Linked DNA regions of Homo sapiens. The protein of the gene in region 6 purifies or fractionates together with the protein of the main gene of each other region. This does not show direct contact. Each region holds a gene or a part of one and is shown on either strand. Other genes may lie near its edges.

Region 1 (3,500 bases), on a different chromosome or scaffold from region 6:
TGAAAGGTTTTGGTTATGCTGAATTTGAGGACCTGGATTCCCTGCTCAGTGCCCTGAGTCTCAATGAAGAGGTAAAGAAAATAAGAGTGGGGATATGAGGGGTGTAAGTTCACAAATCTCATGTTTATTGATCAAACTGGTATTTTTTAGGTTGAGAGGCTCACTTCAAAGATTCCCATATCTACAAATAAAGGCCTGCATTATTTAACAGTGTATCACTTAACATCGAACATCTAGCAAGTCACACTTCAGCAAATTCAGTAGGCCCCAATAATTTAGATAGGTACTTAGGTGGAAAGTTGTGGAAGAAACCCACCACACACCAGGTCTCTAATTAAGTCTTACACTGATTTACCCACAGTGTTGCCTCAACTCTTATGGCATTGCTTTTTCAAAGTAATCTGGCCTGATAAAGGCAAATAGAAAAATCAAGTTTGTTTAGTATTAAAGGCATATCTCATTTTCAGGGAAGTGTTGTAATGGTATATTTGTTCATTTAAGAGGATTTGGAAACATTTCCTACAAAGGAATATTTTACAGGAGAGTGACAATAAATATCTAGTCCTTCTGCTTGTCAACACTGCCCACAAAGGTTTTCCTGTCCCAGGACTTGAGGGGCTTATATCTCAGAAGAAAAAAGACTTTTTTCCTCCTTTAACTCCAAAAACACCTTATTGTTTATTGATAAGGCAATTTCTAGTGCCATTTGTGCCATATTTCTGTAGTCCTATTTTGCCATATGACATGATTGAAATCAACACCTCTTAGAAATAGTTTTGCTGCCTCATAATTGATTACCATCATGATAACCTGTAGTCAGTGTGAAATAGAGATAAAAATTAATGTACTTAGTTAAATGCATATGAAGGTCTAATCTTGTTCCAGAGTTACTCTTACTGGATTATTTTTAGATTTTTATTAACATTACTGGTCTCTAACTTTACTCAGTCTGGATAAGAAAAAGAATACCATGCAATTGTTAACTATTTGATGTTTACTAGATTAACTATTAATATATTGTTGTGGTCCATAGTTAAGAGTTACTTTGTTACTAGAGATTTCATTATAGTGGTGTTTAATATAGTTTTGGGTATTTTTAACTAAAAATCATTGTTATCCTTCAACTGTAGATTCTACTATGAAATGAGGAAAAATCAGCAATAGAATTAATTGGGTTCAAAGTATATAAATAATGATGTGGGAAAGGGAAGTCAGAGGGTATCTCTGGAAGAACTGATTTATCTGAAGGTAATACTGAGTGAAAGAACCTAAGATTGTAGACAAAGCATGCTTTATGCAATTTTGCTGGTACATAGTAGTAGTAGAGGCTCTATAAATGTGTTGGGTGTTTTTGTTTTTAAGAGACAGTGTCTCGCTATATTGCCCAGGCTGGATTTGAACTCCTGGGCTTAAGTGATCCTCCAGCCTCAGCCTCCCAAATAGCTGAGACTGTAGGTACATGCCACTGCACCTGGCTTCTATAAATTTTGATAAATAATTGTTGTGGCACCAAATATGCCTTTTATTCAGCTAGTTATGTGAGAATTATTTTTAATTTACTACACTTGACAAATTACCTTGGATAGTTAAAAAGTTAATTCTATTCTGTGAAATTAAGCTTTGTAAAAATAGTATAATTGACCTAATATTCAAGGCCAGCTTAAATTTGTTTAACTTTTAAGTCTTTTAAAGGACTCTTTAGCCCACAAATTGGAGTGTTAGCTAGATTACAGTGTTTTCCTTTATCTTCCTTCCCCTAGTGCTTCTGCTATGCCCAGACGTTCAAGGTCACTCAAGGGATTTGTGCATAATGGGGCAAAAGGTTGGTTAATATGGTCCTATGCTCTCAGTCTCTAGGTAACAGGAGAATTCGAGTGGACGTTGCTGATCAAGCACAGGATAAAGGTAAGGAAACTGGTAGAGATTTCTGTTTGGTAATGGTCCCAGGATGACACCAAGCCATCCTTTCCCAGAAAATTTGAATAGGGGTAGTGGTGGGCCTGCCTGAATCTACAGTAACAGTTTTCAATCAGTTTTGCCCCACAGGGGACTTCTGGCAATGTTTGAAGACATTGTAGTTGTCACAATTGGAGGGAGTGCTGCTGACATAAGTAGAATCCAGGGGTTAATTCTATAGGGAATAGGACAGTCCCCATCAACAAAGAATTATGCAGCCCAAAATGCATGTCAAGATTGAGAAGACTGATTGATCTAGATGAACATTAAATAGATGATAAATAGATTAGCTGCCTAACAGCACGTTGGTCACAAAGGGGACCTAATTTGTATATGTTTCAGGGACTCCTGGCCCATACAGAATTTGAGATAGCTAAGCATTAAACCAATAGGAAAAAACGGGAGGAAAAGAGCCACCTGGGGTTGAATTGGAGCATGTACTTATGGGGCCTGAGGTAACTGGGATGACAGTGTGACGTGAAAGTGAAAAATAGGGTAAAATGGGGGTTTTCTATGTGTGAGAAATATTGGGCAAAGTTTTTATGAGATAACTTACGGTTTTTGTTTTAATGTATCTGTAGACAGGGATGATCGTTCTTTTGGCCGTGATAGAAATCGGGATTCTGACAAAACAGATACAGACTGGAGGGCTCGTCCTGCTACAGACAGCTTTGATGACTACCCACCTAGAAGAGGTGATGATAGCTTTGGAGACAGTAAGTTTGTTTTTATGAAGTTAGCTTCCTCTGTGCTTTGGGAGGCTATTTAGTAATAGGACAAATGTGTTACAGATGATCAGATCACATTAACAGATAGAAGGAGGAAAGCAGATTAAGAAAAATTTTGGATAGTATCTGAAAGAACTGATAGATGCAGGAAACGAATTTGATAAATTAATAATTTTTTTTGAAAACTTAACCAAACAAAGGGACAGACATTTCTCTTTTTTTGGAGACAATTGTTTATAAAGAAACCCAAACTGGGCATGGTGGCTATAATCCCAACGCTTTGGGAGGTCAAGGCAGGTGGATTGCTTAAGGCCAGGAGTTTGAGAGCAGCCTGGGCGACAAAACAAGACCCTGTCTACCAAAAAGAAAAAGAAAAAGCTGACGTGGTGGTACGCACCTGCAGTCCTAGCTGTTCAGCAAGCTGAGGCAAGAGGACTCCTTGAGCCCAGGAGGTCTAGACTGGGTGACAGAGCGAGACCCTGTCTCAAAAAAAAAAATCCAACAGATTCTACAAAGTGAGCTATTTGAAATAAGAGTTCAGCATGATTGCTGAGTGAAGAGCAGCATACAAAGATCAGTTGCATTACTTTTTGATATATATATATATTTTTGAGACGGAGTCTCGCTGTGTCGCCCAGGCTGGAGTGCAGTGGCGTGACCTTGGCTCACTGCAACCTCCACCTCCTGGATTCAAGTGATTCTCCTGCCTCAGCCTCCCAAGTAGCTGGGACTACAGGCGCGCGCCACCACACCCAGCTAATTTTTGTATTTTTAGTAGAGATGGGGTTTCACCATGTTGGCCAGGATAGTCTTGAT
Region 2 (3,500 bases), on a different chromosome or scaffold from region 6:
TTATTCCAGAGTGACTGTAATGACCCCCAAATTATAGAAGGAAATAGAAACAAGTCAGTACAAAGATCTAAATTTCACCATATATGAGAGATCTCTGTCCTCTCTTAAATCATCCAGCCTTCGACAAGTTATTTTGCCAAGGACCTACTACATACCAAGCACCAAGGAAACAAAATGGTGAGCAAAACAGACACAGACCCTCTTGAGCTTCCTGTCTAATGACTCAGCCACTGGATTCCACTCAGTGCACAAGATATAAAGAGCTCACACCTACCATTGCCAACCTGTGGAGCAATGGCTTCAGCCTCGGGCCAAGGTGTATTCTTGAAGAATCTTTCAGTCAGCTTGGTCCAGCTAAAAATCAAGAAAAAAATCTCTAAAATTCCAAAAGGACTGGAGAATGCCAATCCTAACATTTTACAGATGAGGACCCAGGCTTAGAAAGGGGAAGATGTCAAATAAACAGAGCTGAGGCCAAAGCCCTTCAAGCCCACAACTGTCCTCAACCCAACTCCACACTTCAATCTTTCTCAACACAAGAAAATATTGTTTTTGTATCAGTTAGGGACCCATCAAGCTTTTCAGGATAATCTCCTGCCTCTGTATCATTAACTATAGCCATATTTAACTGCTTGCTGTTTTCTGCTATAAGAACTACTTTTTTGGCCACCATTCTTTAACACAGCGTTTCCATCTCCTGGAGCACATCCAAACGTCTCTAAACACAGAAGCAAATCAGTCTGCTGCAGTCCAAGGCCACAACAGACCTACAGCATCCAATTTAAACACTGCTGCCTATCCAATCCAAACACTGCTACTTGACAAACCTGCAACAGGTTGTTTAATTTTCTTCTCCTGATGCCCTCAGCAGCTATTAATACTTTCCTCCAATCTCCTCAAGCCCCACCCCTCCTGCTTCTCTGGCTCTTTTAGTCCAACATATAAACATGCTCAAGTTCCCCTAAAAAACACTGAACAGGCCAGGCATGATGGCTCACGCCTGTAATCTCAACACTTTGGGAGGACAAGATAGGGGTATCGCTTGAACCCAGGAATTCAAGACAAGCCTGGACAATATAGGAAGGCCCTGTCTCTACGGGATGGGGGTTGGGGAGAAACACAGAAACAGAACAGAAAAGAAACACTGAAACAGGCCAGGCGCGCTGGCTCACACCCGTAATCTCAACACTTTGGGAGGCTGAGGCGGGTGGATCACTTGAGGTTAGGAGTTCCAGACCAGCCTGACCAACACGGTGAAACCCCGTCTCCACTAAAAATACAAAATTAGCCAGGCATGGTGGTGCACACCTATAATCCCAACTACTTGGGAAGCTGAGGCAGGAGAATCGCTTGGAGCCAGGAGGCGGAGGTTGCGATGAGCTGAGATTGCGCCATTGCACTCTAGCCTGGGCAACAAGAGCGAAATCCTGTCTCAAAAAACAAAAAACAAAAACAGAAAAAACACAGAAACAAAACACAAAGCCACTCAGTGACCCTTTATGTCCCCGATACTTACCAATTCCCCTTTCTCACCCCACTGCTCTCTGGCTGTTGCTTCCATCACTCTACTGACATTGACCTTGCTAAGGTTATCAAGGCCCTCCAAGTTACCAAATTCAACTGGCTTTTTTTCTCATCTGGACCTCACTAAAACATTTGGTGATACTCTCTTCCTCAGTTTCTTCTGCAGACTTTTTGGTTCCTGTGACATTTCTTTGCCAATTTACTATCTACTTTTCACTTTTCTTTCTGCCTCCTTTACTAGATCCTTTCTTTGCCTGCCCACCCATCCCTAAAGAAACATACTTCTTAAGGCACCAGCATTTCTTCTCACATTCTCCTAGAGAAAGACTTACAAGATGCTTGGCTTCAACTGTCATCTGTATCTGCGGGCACTGCCCAATGCAATAGCCACTAGCTACATGTGGCTACTATATAAGCAAAGAGTTAAATTTTAAATTTCAGTTAGTTGCCATTTAAGTTTAAAAACCAACACTTAACTCAGTATTGGAAAACTTTTAGGTCTATTTGGAATTACTCTACTATTTGAAGATTCAAATTTCAAATTTGAATTACTTTTCCAGTCATAAACTCTATAAAATCTAAACACAAAGCAAGTATTTCTGATACACACTGGATTTAGGAAACTTTAAGTATAAAGAAAAAAAAGGGCAAATATCCCCTTAATTTTTAAATACTGATTACATATAGAAATAATATTTTAAATAAATCTCCACTTCGCTTGGCTGAAAAATTAAAATTAATGTCTAGCTACATTTCTATTGAACATCAGGTCCATTTTTTAATTTTGAGAGAGGGTCTCGCTCCATTGTGCAGCTCACTGCAGCCTCAACCTCCCAGGCTCAAGTGATCCTCCCACCTCAGCCTCCCAACTAGCTGGGACTATAGGCATGCTGCCACCATGCCCCAGCTAATTTTTGTAGGCGCTGATTTATATACTTCTAATCAGAAAAGACCCGGGGAATAAAGAAAACACAGTTCAGCACACTTGCCTTTCAGGTCACCCACCTGGCCCTCTTCCAACTGTCCTTTCCTTTCTTTCATTCCTGTTCTAAAGCTTTTTAATAAACTTTCACTCCTGCTCTCAAACTTGCCTCCCTCTCTTCTTCTGCCTTGTGCCCCTCAGTCGAATTCTTTCTTGTTAGGAGTCAAGAACTGAGGATGCTGTCGACCCGTACAGATACAGACTCATCATCAGTAGCATTTTAGCCCTCAGTGTAATTCTTTCTTGTGAGGAGGCAAGAACTGAGGCTGCTGTAGACCTGTACAGATACGGACTCATCATCGGTAGCATTTTACCCCTCAGTCGAATTCTTTCTTTTGAGGAGGCAAGAACTGAGGCTGCTGGAGACCTGTACAGATACGGATTCATCATTGGTAGCATGTTTTGGTGTTGTGTCACTTCAACACCCTTCAGCTGCTAACCTCTTTTGGTGCCGCATGACTTGGATCCATTTGCTAGTGGTGAAAGACCTCGATGCTGCACCTTCTTCGGCTGGAGGTGTTCAACCTCCGAACAAGGTTTTCTCCCTTTCTCTCTCCTCACTAACTAACCCCCAGATCAATTCTTCTTGGTCATAAGTGACTCTGTTCCCATTGGCTGATCTCTCAGCTCAACCTAATGGGTGGCTTGCAGGGGCGGGAAGGACCTTGGAGTCCACACCAAGTAGAACTTAGGCTCACGAGAGTGGCAGGGGTGAGGCCTAAAACCATGCAATGTCTGAGGTTTCCTCTGCTTTTCAACTACAATCAGCTCTTTCAAAACAACAAAAAAAGAAAACACATGTCAGAGATCCTATTCATTGATCAATAGGCCTTTGGCTATTTGTTTTCTCTCCCTCATCCTTCTGACTTGCTTAAATTCTATTTCCTTGGTGAAGTCACTCCTGACTATCCCAGCTTTGACTGACCTATCTTATCTCTAACGCTCATTACACAACGGCAGCCCCTCAAAACCTGCGGAGTTCAGCTTGCTCTGA
Region 3 (3,500 bases), on a different chromosome or scaffold from region 6:
CATCTGGTTTTTAAATTTCTTCACCAAACACACTTAGAGTGCATGTGGTTTTCATTGTGGGTGGAGGGGGGGGTACAGGCTGACAAATAAGGAACCACACCCAAGCTTCACAAACCAAACAGAGGTTTTTTTTTTGTTGTTTTTGTTTTTTTTAATTCCTTTAGTGATACTCTAAAACATTTGAGTTTGCTTTGGTATTAGTCGAAACTTCCCCATAAAAAATAATGTGATATTTTATAGTAAGGTAGCTCTTAATGCAGTGTCTTAAATTTGTTTTTACTGATCTTTTTGGCACATGATGAATCAAAATGTTTGACTCTCAAGTAGAGTCTTAGTTTTGAATCTCTGCTCTGAAGGAATTATTTATGTGATTTTTGTCTGCGTATCTTTTTAAATAATTGCTTTTTAAATAATTTTAAGGCTTTTTTGAACAAGTGTTTTATAAGCCTTAGTTTAATCCACAAAACAATTTAAAAAGCTACTAAATATTAAGGGGGAAAACCTGAAAACTTTTCTTAAAATGCACTATCTTTGAAAATGGTCCTTGGCTGGGTGCGGTGGCTTATGCCTCTAATCCCAGCACTTTGGGAGGCCCAGGCAGTCAGATCATCTGAGGTCAGGAGTTCAAGACTAGCCTGGCCAACATAGTGAAACCCCGTCTCTACTAAAAACTAGCTGGGGGTGATGGCATGTCCCTGTAGTCCCAACTACTTGGGAGGCTGAGGCAGGAGAATCGCTTGAACCCAGGAGGCGGAGGTTGCAGTGCACCGAGATTGTGCCATTGCACTCCAGCCTGGGCGACAGAGTGAGACTCCATTTCCAAAAAAAGAAAAATGGCCCTTTGACTCTCATGATTCTTTTTTGCTGCAGCTGTGGGGGGTAGTAGAGACAGGGTCTTGCTATGTTACCCAGGCTGGTCTTGAATTCCTGGACTCATGAACTCCTGGGCTCAAATGATCTCTCTACCTCACCCTCCCAAAGTGATGGGATTACAGGCATGAACCACAGTGTTCAGCCTCTCCTAATTTTTACTCAGCTTTATATTGGGATGAAGAGACAGAGAAGTAGATCATATGAGAGGTAGGAATGGTAAGAATAAAATATTGAGCACTATTGGCCGGGCATGGTGGCTCACGCCTGTAATCCCAGCACTTTGGGAGGCTGAGATGGGCAGATCATGAGGTCAGGAGATCGAGACCATCCTGGCTAACACGGTGAAACCCTGTCTCTACTAAAAAATAGAAAAAATTAGCCGGGCGTGGTGGCGGGTGCCTGTAGTCCCAGCTACTCGGGAGGCTGAGGCAGGAGAATGGCACGAACCTGGGAGGCGGAGCTTGGAGTGAGCCGAGATCGCGCCACTGCACTCCAGCCTGGGCGACAGAGCGAGACTTCGTCTCAAAAAAAAAAAAATTGAGCGCTATTGCCAATGCTGGAGCAAGTCAATGTTAGTGAACAATTTGGCCAAGTGTGATAATACAGGTTAGCTGAAATATCTGGAGGAAAACAAGATTTTATTTTATTTATTTATTTTTTTTGAGACGGAATCTTGCTCTGTCACCCAGGTGGAGTGCAGTGGCATGATCTCGGCTCACTGCAACCTCTGCCTCCCGGGTTCAAGCGATTCTCCTGTCTCAGCCTCCCGAGTAGCTGGGATTATAGGCGCCTGCCACCACGCACAGCTAATTTTTGTGTTTTTAGTAGAGACGGGGTTTCACTCTGTTGGTCAGGCTAGTCTCCCAACTCCTGACCTCAGATGATTCGCCTGCCTTGGCCTCCCAAAGTGCTGGGATTACAGGCGTGAGCCACCGCGCTCAGCCGATTTTATTATTTATTTTTGAGACTGAGTCTCGCTGTGTAGCCCAGTCTGGAGTGCAGTGGCGCTATCTCGGCTCACTGCAACCTCTGCTTCCCAATTCAAGCAATTCTGCCTCAGCCTTTGGAGTAGCTAGGACTACTGGTGTGTGCCACACTCCTGGTTGAAAACAATATTTTAAATTTAGGAAAAAAATATTCTATAACTTATCTAAACACATTGGTGGTGTTTTTTTCTTGTGTAAAATGAGGAAATTAAGATCTCTTGTTTTTAAGGTATTGCTGCTTCTACCACTAGAATCGTGATTCAGGTTTTTTGTCATATTGTTCCCTTTATTTTAAGACTTAAAACTTTATTTTAACTTGTAAATTCAAATAAACGGCAAACATTTATCAAATACCTTAAGGCTGTGTCAGAGCATATATGTATCAGATTACCATTTTTAATCATAGATTTTTCTTTTAACTGTGGATAAACTTAAAAAGTTATTGGTAACAGTATATGCTTATGGAAGAAAATATAGAAAAACATGGGCTGGGTGCAGTGGCTCATGCCTGCAATCCCAGCACTTTGGGAGGCCAAGTTGGGTGGATCACTTGAGGTCAAGAGTTTGAGACCAGCCTGACCAGTGTGGTGAAACCCCGTCTCTACTGAAAATACAAAAAAAAAAATTAGCTGGGCACAGTGGCTGGTGCCTGTCATCTTAACTACTTGGGAGGCTGAGACACGAGAATCGCTTGAACCTGGGAGGCAGAGGTTCCAGTGAGCTGAGATTGAATCATTGTACTCCAGCATGGGCGACAGAGTGAGACTCCATCTCAAAAAAAAAAAAAAAGAAAAAGAAAAACATGGAAAAAGCACAAGCAAGAATAACATTTTCTATTCCCACTACCTACAGGTAAGCCACTAATAACATTTTGATGATATGTTTCTAATAATTATGTGCATATACAGTAAACACATAAAGAAAATTGAGATCGTGATATACATTCTGCTTTGTAATGTGTTCTGTTGACTTAGAGTGGAAACATTTCCTCTGACATTAACTATTTGGACATATTTTAATTGTCTGCACATTATTTTATTGAAGGGCTTTTTCATACTGAATTAATTCTATTGTGTATATTCAAGTTATCCCTAATTTCCCTTTGTGATTACAATGCTGCATTGCACCTCCTTGTGATGAATTTTTATGGGTCTTTGATTTCTTCAAGGTAGATTTTTAGATGGCAAAGAATTGTACTGTATGCATACTGTATATTTTTTTTTAGGTCTCACTATGTTGTCCAGGCTAGTCTTAAACTTGGGGACTCAAGCAGACCTCTGTCTTGGCCTCCCAGGAAGCCAGGATTACAGGCGTGTGGTTTACTATATATTCTTAATTTATCTATATGGTATTGTGATCTTGTTCTCTTTTTAAAAATGCAATATGCACTTGCACTAATATGTTTTAAAGATATATTTGTGGGCTGGGCACGGTGGCTCACGCCTGTTATCCTCAGCACTTTGGGAGGCTGAGATGGGCGGATCATGAGGTCAGGAGTTTTGAGACCATCCTGGTTAACATGGTGAAATCCCGTCTCTACTAAAAATACAAAAAATTAGCCCGGTGTATTGGTGGGCGCCTGTAGTCCCAGCTGCTTGGGAGGCTGAGGCAGGAGAATGGCGTGAACCTGGGAGGTGTAGG
Region 4 (3,500 bases), on a different chromosome or scaffold from region 6:
GTTCACATCAATCTGTACTATTCAGAACAAAACCAGTTCTGCTGGCAGAGATTGTGGGTTCGCAGGGACATTTAAGCTTTCATTAAACTGGAAAGCAATCAAGTCTTTATGTCTACAAATAATACATTTCATAGTTCCACAAATTTGGCAGAGTTTGTGATGACATCTAGGATGTTTTCACCAAATCGTAGACATAAATATGGAAATCATCATCAAACTTGATGAAATAGACGGAGGGCTTGGCTTCTACTTGATGAATGACCATGCCAGTCCTTTTCGAGCCATCTTCTTTGGCATATTCCACTTGTTTGCCTACCAGGCTGTCCACAACTTCTCCTGGTTCCCTTTCTGCTGGAGGTGAATCATCTATATTAAAAAAAAAAAAAAAAAAAAAAAGAGAGAGAGAGAAAATTTCTAAGTCAATTTTTAGATATAAATCAACTCACATATTTATTTTCATAACTTAAAAAAAATTTTAATAGCCTGAATTCATGATTATCTAGACCAGGAGTCAGCAAACGTTTTCGTAAAAGACAAGACAGTAAATATTTCAGGCTTAGGGTCATATGGTCTCTGTCCCAACTGCTGAACTCTGCCACTGTAGCACAAAAGCAGCCACTGATGATATGTATATAAACAGATGTGGCTGTGTTCCAATAATAAAACTTTTTTTCATAGTTTGCCGACCTCCATCTAGATATATGAACAATTTTGAAAATCATAACCAAAAATTTCTTTGGCCCATGTTTAATCTGTAGCTGCACTTAAATGAAAATAAGTTTGAGTGGCTTTGAAATATAATTTGAAAGCAGACAATTCCTACAGGGATTACTGAGAATATGGCACACATTTAAAATGCCTAAGTACCATTGGTTTTACTCTGTGAATCCTTAAAGCTTCTTCCCCCTCAACTTCACTGCATTTCACATCATCTTCCTAACTCAGTTCCAAAATTTAAGCTTTCCATGCTTTAAAAATTGGTGCTGAATGAACTTCAGCCCAGGACAACTACAAGGGAATCTCTGAGGATGGCACAGGCATCTGTACTGTTTAAAAGGTCCCCAAGATTAATGTACTGCCTCTAGCCTCTAAGAAAACACACAGAAACAGCAAACCATCACCACCAACAACAAAAAAACAAAGTAAAAGAAAAAAAAGAGAGGGGGTTTGCTAGGCAATTATAATTCTATTTTAAGAAACTCTGCATGGGTTCTGAAAAACTCGAAGCTCTTTTCCTCGTAGTAGCAGGTGGCCTTCAGGTAGGGCAACCAGAGGATCCAGCTACATAAGACAGTCCATGTTATCCTGGCACAATTGGTAGTAATGTCATTTTACTCTCACAGGTATCCTGGTGTAGACCATATAATGTACATGTATTAATAGTAGTCTGCCTCTTCGGTTACAATAAATTCTCTCACTGAATGACAATCCAAAAACTGCTACTGTGATCTCTGGTACTAAGAGTCACAAGAAATAAAAATAAAACATCTGAGCATAATCAATTCTTTTAAAAGAAATAAAGAAATATAAGCTGAACTCTTTTCTTTAAAAATTCTCTTCCCTTAAGCAGTATCATCATACTGCCATATTTTTGTGGCACGTTTACAAAAGAATTACAAATACACAATCGCACGTGAATTTTATAGTAACTCAGCTAACCAAGGGAGTCATGTAGAGGCCTGTTTTACCATCAGAGCGGGTACGCGACCAGGACCCTTTCAGAAATCATTAGATCAGAGCATCACCACTGTTTCTAAAGGTAATAAGCTTCCATAGCGCGTGCACACACACACACACACAAGTTTGGAGAATTAAAGGAGAGGGAAGATCAAAAAATGGCTAGGAAAAGCGATGCAGAATTGCAGACGCCCTTGCATTTCCTATGATTAGGTTAACAGGACTTGCTCTATTTATCTATAAAAAAATGTTCAAGTCACCTCATACAGGTTGGAGAAATGCTTTTTAAAGAAATGTTCTCATGACAAATTCCTGAGTATGTAAGTTGCATTACCCCTTTATAACAAATGTACACAATTTTTTTTTTCTTTTTGAGACGGAGTCTTGCTCTTCTCGCCCAGGCTGGAGTGCAGTGGTGCAATCTCGACTCGCTGCAACTTCTGCCTCCCGGGTTCAAGTGATTCTTCTGCTTCAGCCTCCCGAGTAGCTGGGACTACAGGCGCCCTCCACCACACTTGGCTAATTTTTTTATTTTTAGTAGAGACGGGGTTTCACCATATTGACCAGGCTGACCTCGAACTCCTGACCTCAGGTGATCCGCCCGCCTCGGCCTCCCAAAGTGCTGGGATTACAGGCGTGAGCCACCATGCCCAGCCCAAAAATTTTAAAAATATGTATTGAAGAAGTAGAAATTCAAGGCCAGATGAGGAAATTAGTATGTTAACTAACTTATTCATAGGAAGAATTTTTTTAAAAAAAGAAATAAAGATGACTGACGCATGGCTAATGTATGGAGAGGGCCTACCAGTTACATCTGTCCAAGGCCAGAGATTCATGTGTTTGAAGAAAGGCCACTGAGTAGTTTTTAAAGGAACAAGCTTATCCAAAAGTGAAATTAAGAAAACAATTCAATTCATATGCACAATGGCATCAAAAAGAATAAAATCCTTAGAAGTAAATTTAATAAAAGAAATGTGGAGCCGGACGCAGTGGCTCACGCCTTTAATCCCAGCACTTTGCGAGGCCAAGGTGAGAGACACAAGGTCAGGAGATCGAGACCATCCTGGCCAACACAGTGAAACTCTGTCTCTACTAAAAATACAAAAATTAGATGGGCGTGGTGGCGTGTGCCTGTAATCCCAGCTACTCGGGAGGCTGAGGTAGACGAATTGCCTGAACCTGGGAGTTGGAGGTTGTAGTGAGCCAAGATCGTGCCACTGCTCACCAGCCTGGCAACAGAGCAAGACTCCATCTCAAAAAATAAATAAATAAAAAGTGGCCAGGCGCGGCGGCTCACCTGAGGTCAGGAGATCGAGACCAGCCTGGTCAACATGGTGAAACGCCATCTCTACTAAAATACAAAAATGAGCTAGGCGAGGTGGCATGTGCCTGTAACCCCAGCTACCCGGGAGGCTGAGGCAGGAGAATCGCTGGAACCTGAGAGGCAGAGGCTGCAGTGAGCTGAGATCAAGCCATGGATTAGAAGACTTATAAAGTCTTGTTAACATTGTTAAGAGGGCAATACTCTTCAAAACTGATCTACAAATTCAACATAGTCCCTGTCAGAATCCCAGGTGACTTCTTTGTTCTGACAAGTTGATTCTAAAATTTATATGAAATTGCAAGGGACCCAGAATAGTCAAAACACTCCTGAAAAAGAAAGGAGGGGCCGGGGTGCAGTGGCTTACACCTGTAATCCCAGCACTTTGGAAGACTGAGGTGGGCAGATCACTTCACCCCAGGAGTTTGAGACCAGCCTGGCCAATATGGCAAAACCCCATCTCTACTAAAAATACGAAAGTTAGCCCAATGTGGTGGCGTAT
Region 5 (2,545 bases), on a different chromosome or scaffold from region 6:
TGGTGTCTATTCTTACCAGATGTATAAAAATGTGAGAGGCCTTGGAGAATCATATCCCAAGAATCAGCAGTTTCTTTTACTGGACCTTTAAGATTGAGACTTGTAAGGTCCTGATGCAGTGACTTGTAAGGTCACTTTGTCTCTCTTGTGAATGTTACTGTTTTTTCTCTTCTGAGGTTATGACCAAAGAATCCTCAAGGCGAGTGATCCTTCAGGTTTGAGACAGCCACATGCAGGAAGACAGGACTTGTAGAGTGTTGGGGCCAAGTGTGTGGTTAGAATCCTTGGGGTGGGGAAAGAGTTTGTTCTAGACTCCAGTGTAGTCCTTGTGGCTACCAGGTCTGACGTGCCAAGGACACGGGAAAGCTGGGAGTGAGGATACTCATAGTCATAGCACCTTACACCAGAATAAAAGTTTTTTTTTTCTTTTTAAGTGATGAGAGAATGGCTAGTCTGATTTTGCCAACATGGGCTGCTATTTGCTTAAGACCTTGATGGTATAAGGAGTGAAGATGCAATCAGGGTAAAAGGCGGTCTGGAGTTGTGGTGTGCTGGCAAACCAGCCCTCTGGGGCAAAAAATTAAAAAGCCTTGATATGGAGTGTTTGCTGATACCTATGATGTAAATATTCCCGCCATGGCCACTTTCCAGCTACCAGCAAGGCATCCTGGCACCAGGGATTGGGAGGAGATGGCATAGTCCTAAGAGTCAGCCTTGGGCATTGGGCCATGTGGGACTGGGCAGTGGGGTATCTGGTCTGGTTCTAAGTGCTGTGATGAAGCAGTAGCAGCTGTAATAGCTGGCATTTCCCGTGTGCTCATCACATAGCAGATGTTATTCCAAGGACTGTATGTTCTTTATCATCCCTCATTTGATAGACAAGACAACTGAGACACAAAAGGGTGAAATAAACAGTAAGTACTCCATCCCAGGCCATCTCATCCAGAGGGTGCTGTCTTGACCACTCTACTACTCTGGTTGATGGGAGGCAGTAAATTGTCCATCAGTATACTTCTTCATCAAAGCTACATAGTCAAAAAGCCACAGGAGGCTGTGAGGAGAAGCTCACTGCTGCTCTGTTGAAGTCTGTATTGGTTTCCTATGGCCACTCTTAACAAATTACCACAACCTCAGTGGCTTAAAACAACACAAATATATCATTCTGTCATCCTGGACACGAGCCAAAGGTTGTCGGCAGAAGCGAATTGCTTCCAGAGGTGCTATAGGGTGCTGCCCATTCCTTGCCCCTTTTCCGCTTCTAGAGGCTGCCCATTTTCCTTGGCTTGTGGCTGCATCATTCTGGCTGCTTCTATTGTCACACCTCCTCTCTGACCCTCCCTGCCTCCTTGTAAGGACACTTGGGATTACGCCCATCCAGATAATCTAGAATAATCTCCCATTTTGTGATTCTTAATAACATCTGCAAAGCCTCTTTTACCTTGCAGAATAAGATATTCACAGGTTCTGGTGAGGAGGACAGGGACATCTCTGAAGGGGAGGGAAGCAGGAGATAGGGTCTGGAGGCATGGAATTGGCTTCCTAAGGCCAATTCAGGCTGACTTCCTAGAACTAAGTCAAAAGGAAAACCCCAACTTTCCACGCTCAAGTAACAAAAGGACCAGAGGCTACTCCCTTTGCAACCTCCCCACCCCCAGCCCCTTTTCTGCATGGCAGGTGAAAAATTGAAAGTATCGCTAATTGATCCCCTCCCACAACCAATCAGACTGGTCTTAGGCCAAGTCTTCATTTGCCTAGGAGTATAACTTTGTAACTTCAGCCTCTGATTGGGCGTTTTACACAACCAGTCAGATGTTTGTATAGGGTGGTGTAACTTTGTAACTTTGCTTCAGCCTCTGATTGGTCCCCTCCCACAACCAATCAAACTGATCATGGACCTCTGCTTCATTTACATAGGGTGTACACCAAGTAACCAATGGGAAACCTCTAGAGGGTATTTAAATCCCAGAAAATTCTGTAACCGGGTTCTTGAGCTGCTTGGGCTGCTCCCACCCTGTGGAGCGTACTTTCGTTTTTCAATAAATCTCTTTTGTTGCTTCATTCTTTACTTGCTTTGTGCGTTTTGTCCATTTCTTTATCAAGACGCCAAGAACCTGGACACCCTCCACCGGTAACAGGAGGAGCATTAGTCAGCCTACCACAGACTCCAACGAACGTTTTTTGAGAGGAAATGAAAGAATATTCCTAAGTTATTGGGTGCCTTTTCTTCAGGAATCCCTGAAAGTGGGGGTTTGCAATTTTCCCTGGATTGAAAACAGAAATGCTTCCTACACAAACATGATTGAGACCTTGTACTCTAGGTGTAAAAAAACAGAGTAGGTCATACTCTGTGGGTTATGGTCAGAGAGATCTGGTTAGAAGTTCCCAGGTAGGCGACAGCCCTAGATGTGTGACACTTCTAGGAGAATCTCTGGCTATGTGGATACGTCCAGGTGTGTAAGGCAGCCTCAGGGACTGCCACCACTTGGTCACATACATGTCCCTCCAACTAATCCTAGCTCTCAAGGACAGGTGGTTCTGGGCCCTG
Region 6 (3,500 bases):
CTTGAGTTTTGCCTTACTCTATGAGTTTTATAAAGCGGTATTGGTAACGCCTTCCTTCCCCTCATTTAGAACAATGAGACAGCACAGAGACCTTACGTGGTTAAAGCTATCTTCTATTTCCTTTCTTTCTTTTCTTTCTCTCTCTTTTTCTCTTTCTTTCCCTCCCTCCCTCCCTCTCTCTCTCTCTTTTTTTTTTTTTTGACAGAGTTTCGCTCTTGTTGCCCAGGCTGGAGTGCAATGGCACAATCCCGACTCACCGCAACCTGCGCCTCCCGGGTTCAAGCGATTCTCCTGCCTCAGCCTCCTGAGTAGCTGGGATTATAGGCATGCGCCACTATGCCTGGCTAATTTTGTATTTTTAGTAGACACGGAGTTTCTCTATGTTGGTAGGCTGGTCTTGAACTCCCAACCTCAGGTGATCCGCCCCCCTCGGCCTCCGAAAGTGCTGGGATTACAGGCATGAGCCACCGCACCCGACCTTCTTTTTCTTTTTTTTTTTTTTTGAGACAGAGTCTCACTCTGTTGTCCAGGCTGGAGTGCAGTGGTGTGATCGGCTCACTGCAGCCTCTGCCTCCCAGGTTCAAGTTATTCTCATGCCTCAGCCACCTGACTAGCTGGGATTACAGACACATGCCACCATGCCCCACTGATTTTTGCGTTTTTAGTAGAGATGGCATTTTGCCATGTTTCCCAGGCTGGTCCCAAATTCCTGGCCTCAAGTGATCCACCCGCCTTGGCCTCCCAAACTGCTGGGAATACAGATGTGAGCCACTGAGCCCAGCCATTTCTTTATTCAGACTGTACAGCTGCCACTGTGATACTGGGGACTAAGCAATCTTAGACTGAGTGTTAAGAATTTTAGTATTGGCCGGGTGCGGTGGCTCACGCCTGTAATCCTAGCACTTTGGGAGGCCGAGGCGGGCGGATCACAAAGTCAGGAGATGGAGACCATCCTGGCTAACATGGTAAAATCCTGTCTCTACTAAAAATACAAAAAAATTAGCCAGGCGTGGTGGCATGCGCCTGTAGTCCCAGCTGCTGGGGAGGCTGAAGCAGGAGAATGGTGTGAACCTGGGAGGCAGAGCTTGCAGTGAGCCAAGATCGTGCCACTGCACTCCAGCCTGGGTGACAAAGCAAGACTCCGTCTCAAAAAAAAAAAAAAAAAAAAAAAAGAATTTTAGTATTGCTAGTCATAATTCTTTGACTTTTCCTCCTATTTCCCACCTCTTTTAGGTGGAGGTTCCAGTTTACTAAATGGAAACATTTCTTCTGAGAGGATCTGTTCCCTGGATCTACTTAAAAAGCTCAGGGTTAAATGAGAAGGACCTAACCCTTCTCATATAGCCCACCAAGGCTTGTATCAAGAACATTAGATTACTTCCATGATTGCTTTTAATTCTGACAGTCCATGAAATGGTCATAAGGTATGGGTTGATAAGGACATGGTTCTCTAGTATTACAGTTCACCCTAATATGTTTTAAATTCTCATTTCTAAGGTTAAGTACTAACCAATCTGCTAATTTCCTCTTGTCTATCTGGTGCAGATCTTGCTGTTGCCTTGATCATAGTGGAAGTCTGATTGTCTGTTAGCTTCTTGATACATCGTTGCCCTGCCACAATATTACAGACCTACAAATGGAAAAAAGTTTTGTACTACATGTATATATCTTTTTTTTTTAGCTCTTACTTAGTGCCAATTACATGTAAATAAAAATTTAAAATCAACTTCATTAAACCACTTATTTTCAATATGTTAAGTAAAAAAGTAGTAAACAAGACAGCTCTACAGTAATTAAGTATAATTAAGTAAAATGTACACCAGATGAAGACTGAAAGAAGTATAGTATACCAAAATGTTAACAGTGGTTACATTAGAGTGGTAGGATTATGGATGAACTTGTTTCGTGTTATTTCATTACAGAAAATTTAGAATAAATTAAAACTTAAAAACAGTTCATATTCCAAAATAAATGTTCTGTATGAGGTAAGTTATCGGCCATAAAAGACCCCAAAAGAATCATGAACAACAGGGTATTAATTAGCAGTGTGAAGGCATTACTTCTAGTGGCAGGTAGGTGTGTTTCTGTTCCTGCCCGACTTGCAGACAGGGAAGGTGCGGGTACTTCAGCTGAAGAGTATACTTTTCTCTGAAATACTGCGCTACTGTTCTCTCCACAGTTTGGCCGTTTTCTAACTGTAAAGGAAAGCTGAGGAAAAAAAAGTACACATGAACAATTCTTGCCCATTATGAGCCAGAAAAACTCCCAACCCCACTAACTAGAGCAAGCTGCCTCACACCATCGCTGCTCTGACAAACTTTTCTTACGTTTGATGACTGGCAGGCCTCCTTGTTACATTACAAACACGGTATTTCCGTCTCATTGTTCCACAATGAGTCACTTCAACCTTCAAACCTGTTCCCAACAAGAAAAATGGAGGTTACAGAACTGTCACATGTAAAATATTTATACTTATAAAGCCTGTTCATTACCATAAAAACTCAATTCTGAACAGACAAAAAATTCTGTGATACAGGCAAGATGATATAAACACCAGATTTTACATATAACATTGCTAATAATGGTCACAGTCATGACAGACCTAATGGCAAAATTTTTCCTTACCCCATCAAGCTCTACACATTAAAAAATAAAATCATAAAATTTGCAAAGCCCATAGATCAAGGGCCAAAATCTTCCATTAATAAAAAATCCTGTTTATAATAAATTCAGGTATTTATGCTGGGAGAGGGAAGGAGGAATGAAAGAGGAGATCCAATAATTCTCAAGGTATTCCATAATTTCAAATTATGTGATATTTACCTAGCCCAGTCATCACATACTGCTTGAAGATCAGAATTTTGTAAAGCTCAAGAAAGAAGTCCTTTAAAGATTTATAAAGCAGGAGAAAAAAATTCCAGGCATTTTTAACAGAAGCAAAGTGACACTTTTATAGAGGTATAATATAGTGACACAGCTCTTTTCCAATACTATTAAAAATCAAATGTAACCAAAATAATTCCTAAAGTAGGTGATCCCTACCCTCTTATGGAGTCAAGATCCCTTTGAGAATCTGATGTAAGCAATAAACTCTCAGCAAAATGCACATATACATAATTTAGCACATGATTTTAGGAGTTCTTGGATCCCTGCCGTCCATCTGTGGACTCTAGGGGTTCAAGGATCCCAGGCCTGCTCTAGAATGTGAAGAAATGGGCTTTAAGCTGTTGGCTGAAGTTCTTCGAGATGAATTTTCTGAAGCAGTGCTGTCAAAGAGAATTTTCTTGAGGTGATGGAATGTTCTACATTTATGCTAATATGGTAATCACTAATAACATGTTACTAAGCATAAGAAATGTAGCTGGTGTACCTAAGAAACTGAAAATTTAATTTTATTTAGGTTTTTTTTTTTTAGTTTTTTGCTCTTGTTGCCCAGGTCAGAGTGCAATGATGCAATCTTGGCTCACTGCAACCTCTGTCTCCAGGGTTAATGTGATTCT
Region 7 (3,119 bases), on a different chromosome or scaffold from region 6:
AGGGGGTCAAACTTGCCCTTTTATATTAATAACAACCCTACTCTACTTTCACCATATCAGCATTAATGCATTCATGAGGGTGGAGGCCTAATCACCTCTTAAATGTCCCACCTCTTAATAATGTTACAATAGCAATTAAATTTCAAAATGGGTTGTAGAGGAGGCAAACATTCAAACCATAGCACTGGCACAGCACATAGTATGTGCTCAATAAATGGTAGCAGTTACACGAATACATTACGAATTTTTTTTCTTCACACAGGCACTGCCTGTTGTGTAATTGAAGCTGTAACCCAGGGACAGGAAAATAGGCAGAAGTCCCTTGAGCCACAGCATGGGGCTACAGAAATGGCTGGGTGCCAGCCCAGGGAAACAGAACTCATCAAGGATCTAGTCTCTCGACTCCATTCTCAATAAACAGGTTTGCAGAATATGGCTGCATCCTAGAGATCAGAAATGTTCAATTCTTTGCTGATGGCCGCTCAGTGGTTGACAGCATAGGCAAGAGGCGCTTCAGGGTGCTCCATCAGAGCCAGCGGGATGGCTACAACACAGCCGACATTGAATACATTGAAGACCAAAAGGTAAGGGTGGCCAGTGCCAAGAATCCCAAAGCCAGGCTATCCTTGTAACTTGATACACAAAGATAGTTGTGAAAGGATTTCTCAGAACCCTTGAGGGCCTTGGGATTTCACACCAAATTGCTGCAGCAACATTGAATGCTGCTGGATTGCTGTCCAGTTGCACTATGGCAGTGAGGGCGCCTACTGTCCTGGCTCTGCTTAGCTGCTGAGTTGCATTCATGCATAGGAAATGTTATCCTAGATCAACCCTGGGGCTCATTCAGCTTGGGAGTTAAGTCTCTGCCAAAGATTGCAAGGAATGGATCTGGGGTGGGTCTATACATATATATTTTATCTATCGATTTATGTATATTTTAAACTTTTTTCTTTTGAGACAATTATAGATCCACACATGCATTTGTATTTTAAAGTACGTAACCTGGCTAAGAGCCCTTCCCAATAATCCATCATCCCCTAAGGCAGAAAGATGACACATCTAGTTAATCCTTGGTTTTCTGAGGTAATGGGTGGAAGAAGAGGTAAATAATCCTATATTCATTTATATTTACATTTGTTACATAGTAGATTAATAAATATCTGATGACTGAGTAAATGTGTTTGACCAAGATAGTTACATGCTGAGACTGACATACTCCTGTGTCTTTTCCAGCAAGTAATGAGAAAACAGATGTAAAAATGAAAAGGGCAAAGGCATGGACCAGCATAACCTGGTTTAACCACATGCCTCCACTCAGGCCGGTTTGAATCTCTGGTTTTCTGCATGTTTTGCTGTTTCAGCTAATCTACCCAGCTGAACCTTTCTCCTTCCTCCATGGTCAGCAGTATCTACACACTGTCCAGCACTTGACTAAGGGGCATTTCACATCAAGCAAAGGAGAAAGCTGAATGGGTGAGCCTTCCCATAGGAAGGCAGGATGGATGCTCAAAGCGAATCAGGTGTCAAAAGTGACTCTGGGAATGATGGAGAGGGTACAGAATGTTTCACTTCCACTTTGATACTTTCAGGTTCAGGGAGAGGATTGTGCTGAGCTCATGGGATTACATAACTGTGTCTATCAGCAAGCATCATTGTGGTTTCATTCGCTCAAATTATCCCTAAAGAATCGGATACTCAATCACTTTGGTCCCATGCCGGAGAAAGACGCCGATCCTCAGGTATAGAAAAATGTCTATTTTTAAACGGGTTGTCCCACTAGAAGAGAGTGCCTAGTGTTTGTGATTAGATGGGTATGTGGCTGCCATTCAGCACATCGAATGCAGAGAGGAAGATGGATTTAATTTGGTGTTGTTTGGCTGCACAGTGAGCGTCATGAGTAAGACCAAAAAGATCCCAAGTTAGAATCGGGGTAACTAAAGTAAAGCAGTAGGAACTTGGATCCAAGGCAGGTTTTGAGAACTAAGTAAGATAAGAGAATGGGAACATAGATATCACCAACAGAAGAACCTTCCATGGGAGTCCAGATTCACACCATGGTAGTGTTAGGGTGACAAGTTACATGCAAAGGCCAGGACTTAAGAGAAGGGTATCCTGGGAGCTGAGACCAAAAGCTGCTGCTTTCAGGTAACTTCATAACCCTCTCCCTCATTGCTTTGGGAACTAGGGGATAGGGCCAGCTACCCTTATAAGATTACAACTGCAAGACCACAAAAACTTTTCGTGCCTCGGTCTATCTATGCTTCGCCCTGCAAGTCTAGACCCTTGCTATTGTCCTCACCAGGGCTGAACAGCTCTGTTCATCATTAAATACTGTTAGTTGAGTTATACTAGACAGTAGTTTGTTAGGTTCTACTGATCAGTGTTCTTCCTGGGGGATAGGCCTATTTGAAAGATCAAGCTGCAGATCAGAAGCTCCCTAGGAGAGTGGAGATGGTTAAGTTTCACTAAGCTTTGCTTGCCTGGAATAAATCAGGGAATACTGTCTTTCTAGGATAAGGCTGGAGATATCCTAACCACATATTTCCTCACGACCATCTCTTCCTATGCTCCAAGCTGGCTCTCCTACATTGATTCTTTACTTATGCTCATCCCCAACTCTGTCACAAAAGAAAAAATCTCAATATGCATATTCTGACCAAAAGTCTGGTCCTGCTTACCTCACTAGCAGTATGACCTTGGGAAGATTCCTTTCCCTTTCTCAACTTTTGTCCCATCTCTGACATGAGGAGGGTTCTAAAGCCCCCTCTTCCTCTTGCATTCTGAGGTTCTAAGACACCAGTCTGTTCCCTAAATGAAATGTCTTGCTTTCCTCAGACCACAAAGGTGGCTTCTTTCCCCCCCCATGCAAAGGCATCATGAGTTTTCAAGGGAGAAAGGCCAGTTAGTGCTTCCTGTGACCCAGCTCCTGGCTCTGGGCCACGATGAGTCAGGACTGCAGCATATACCTCTGAGCAAACTCACGATCAAGCTTAATGTTCCCCTTCACCTTCCGGGAAGCGTTCTCCCTTAGGCAAAAGATACAGATCAGCAATGGTAACGGGAAAACACAGATGCTACAGTGTGATTCATAAAGGCTAATGACAGAGAAAGTTGAAATC

Evidence for each region.
Region 1: the proteins of AGO3 (region 6) and EIF4B purify together in Homo sapiens (affinity purification with mass spectrometry; one study listed by BioGRID and IntAct). This does not show direct contact.
Region 2: the proteins of AGO3 (region 6) and EIF3L purify together in Homo sapiens (affinity purification with mass spectrometry; one study listed by BioGRID and IntAct). This does not show direct contact.
Region 3: the proteins of AGO3 (region 6) and STK38 purify together in Homo sapiens (affinity purification with mass spectrometry; one study listed by BioGRID and IntAct). This does not show direct contact.
Region 4: the proteins of AGO3 (region 6) and SPIN1 purify together in Homo sapiens (affinity purification with mass spectrometry; one study listed by BioGRID and IntAct). This does not show direct contact.
Region 5: the proteins of AGO3 (region 6) and LIMD1 purify together in Homo sapiens (co-immunoprecipitation; one large-scale study listed by IntAct). This does not show direct contact.
Region 7: the proteins of AGO3 (region 6) and LONRF3 purify together in Homo sapiens (affinity purification with mass spectrometry; 3 studies listed by BioGRID and IntAct, with this or other methods). This does not show direct contact.

Annotation. Positions count from the first base shown.
Region 1 is NC_000012.12:53,019,956-53,023,455, forward strand, and holds part of EIF4B (eukaryotic translation initiation factor 4B), read left to right. Parts: coding exon 1-71; intron 72-1,850; coding exon 1,851-1,905; intron 1,906-2,537; coding exon 2,538-2,672; intron 2,673-3,500. UniProt on the Homo sapiens protein: Required for the binding of mRNA to ribosomes. Functions in close association with EIF4-F and EIF4-A. Binds near the 5'-terminal cap of mRNA in presence of EIF-4F and ATP.
Region 2 is NC_000022.11:37,852,419-37,855,918, reverse strand, and holds part of EIF3L (eukaryotic translation initiation factor 3 subunit L), read right to left. Parts: intron 355-3,500; coding exon 275-354; intron 1-274. UniProt on the Homo sapiens protein: Component of the eukaryotic translation initiation factor 3 (eIF-3) complex, which is required for several steps in the initiation of protein synthesis.
Region 3 is NC_000006.12:36,540,980-36,544,479, reverse strand, and holds part of STK38 (serine/threonine-protein kinase 38), read left to right. Parts: exon of another isoform or gene 1-2,711; intron 2,712-3,500. UniProt on the Homo sapiens protein: Serine/threonine-protein kinase that acts as a negative regulator of MAP3K1/2 signaling. Converts MAP3K2 from its phosphorylated form to its non-phosphorylated form and inhibits autophosphorylation of MAP3K2.
Region 4 is NC_000009.12:88,471,944-88,475,443, reverse strand, and holds part of SPIN1 (spindlin-1), read right to left. Parts: intron 367-3,500; coding exon 167-366; 3' UTR 1-166. UniProt on the Homo sapiens protein: Chromatin reader that specifically recognizes and binds histone H3 both trimethylated at 'Lys-4' and 'Lys-9' (H3K4me3K9me3) and is involved in piRNA-mediated retrotransposon silencing during spermatogenesis.
Region 5 is NC_000003.12:45,681,751-45,684,295, forward strand, and holds part of LIMD1 (LIM domain-containing protein 1), read left to right. Parts: 3' UTR 1-2,545. UniProt on the Homo sapiens protein: Adapter or scaffold protein which participates in the assembly of numerous protein complexes and is involved in several cellular processes such as cell fate determination, cytoskeletal organization, repression of gene transcription, cell-cell adhesion, cell differentiation, proliferation and migration.
Region 6 is NC_000001.11:36,007,605-36,011,104, reverse strand, and holds part of AGO3 (protein argonaute-3), read right to left. Parts: intron 2,416-3,500; coding exon 2,328-2,415; intron 2,209-2,327; coding exon 2,061-2,208; intron 1,727-2,060; exon of another isoform or gene 1,631-1,726; coding exon 1,511-1,630; exon of another isoform or gene 1,234-1,510; intron 1-1,233.
Region 7 is NC_000023.11:119,012,618-119,015,736, forward strand, and holds part of LONRF3 (LON peptidase N-terminal domain and RING finger protein 3), read left to right. Parts: intron 1-262; coding exon of another isoform or gene 263-284; exon of another isoform or gene 285-421; coding exon 422-584; intron 585-1,589; coding exon 1,590-1,739; intron 1,740-3,119.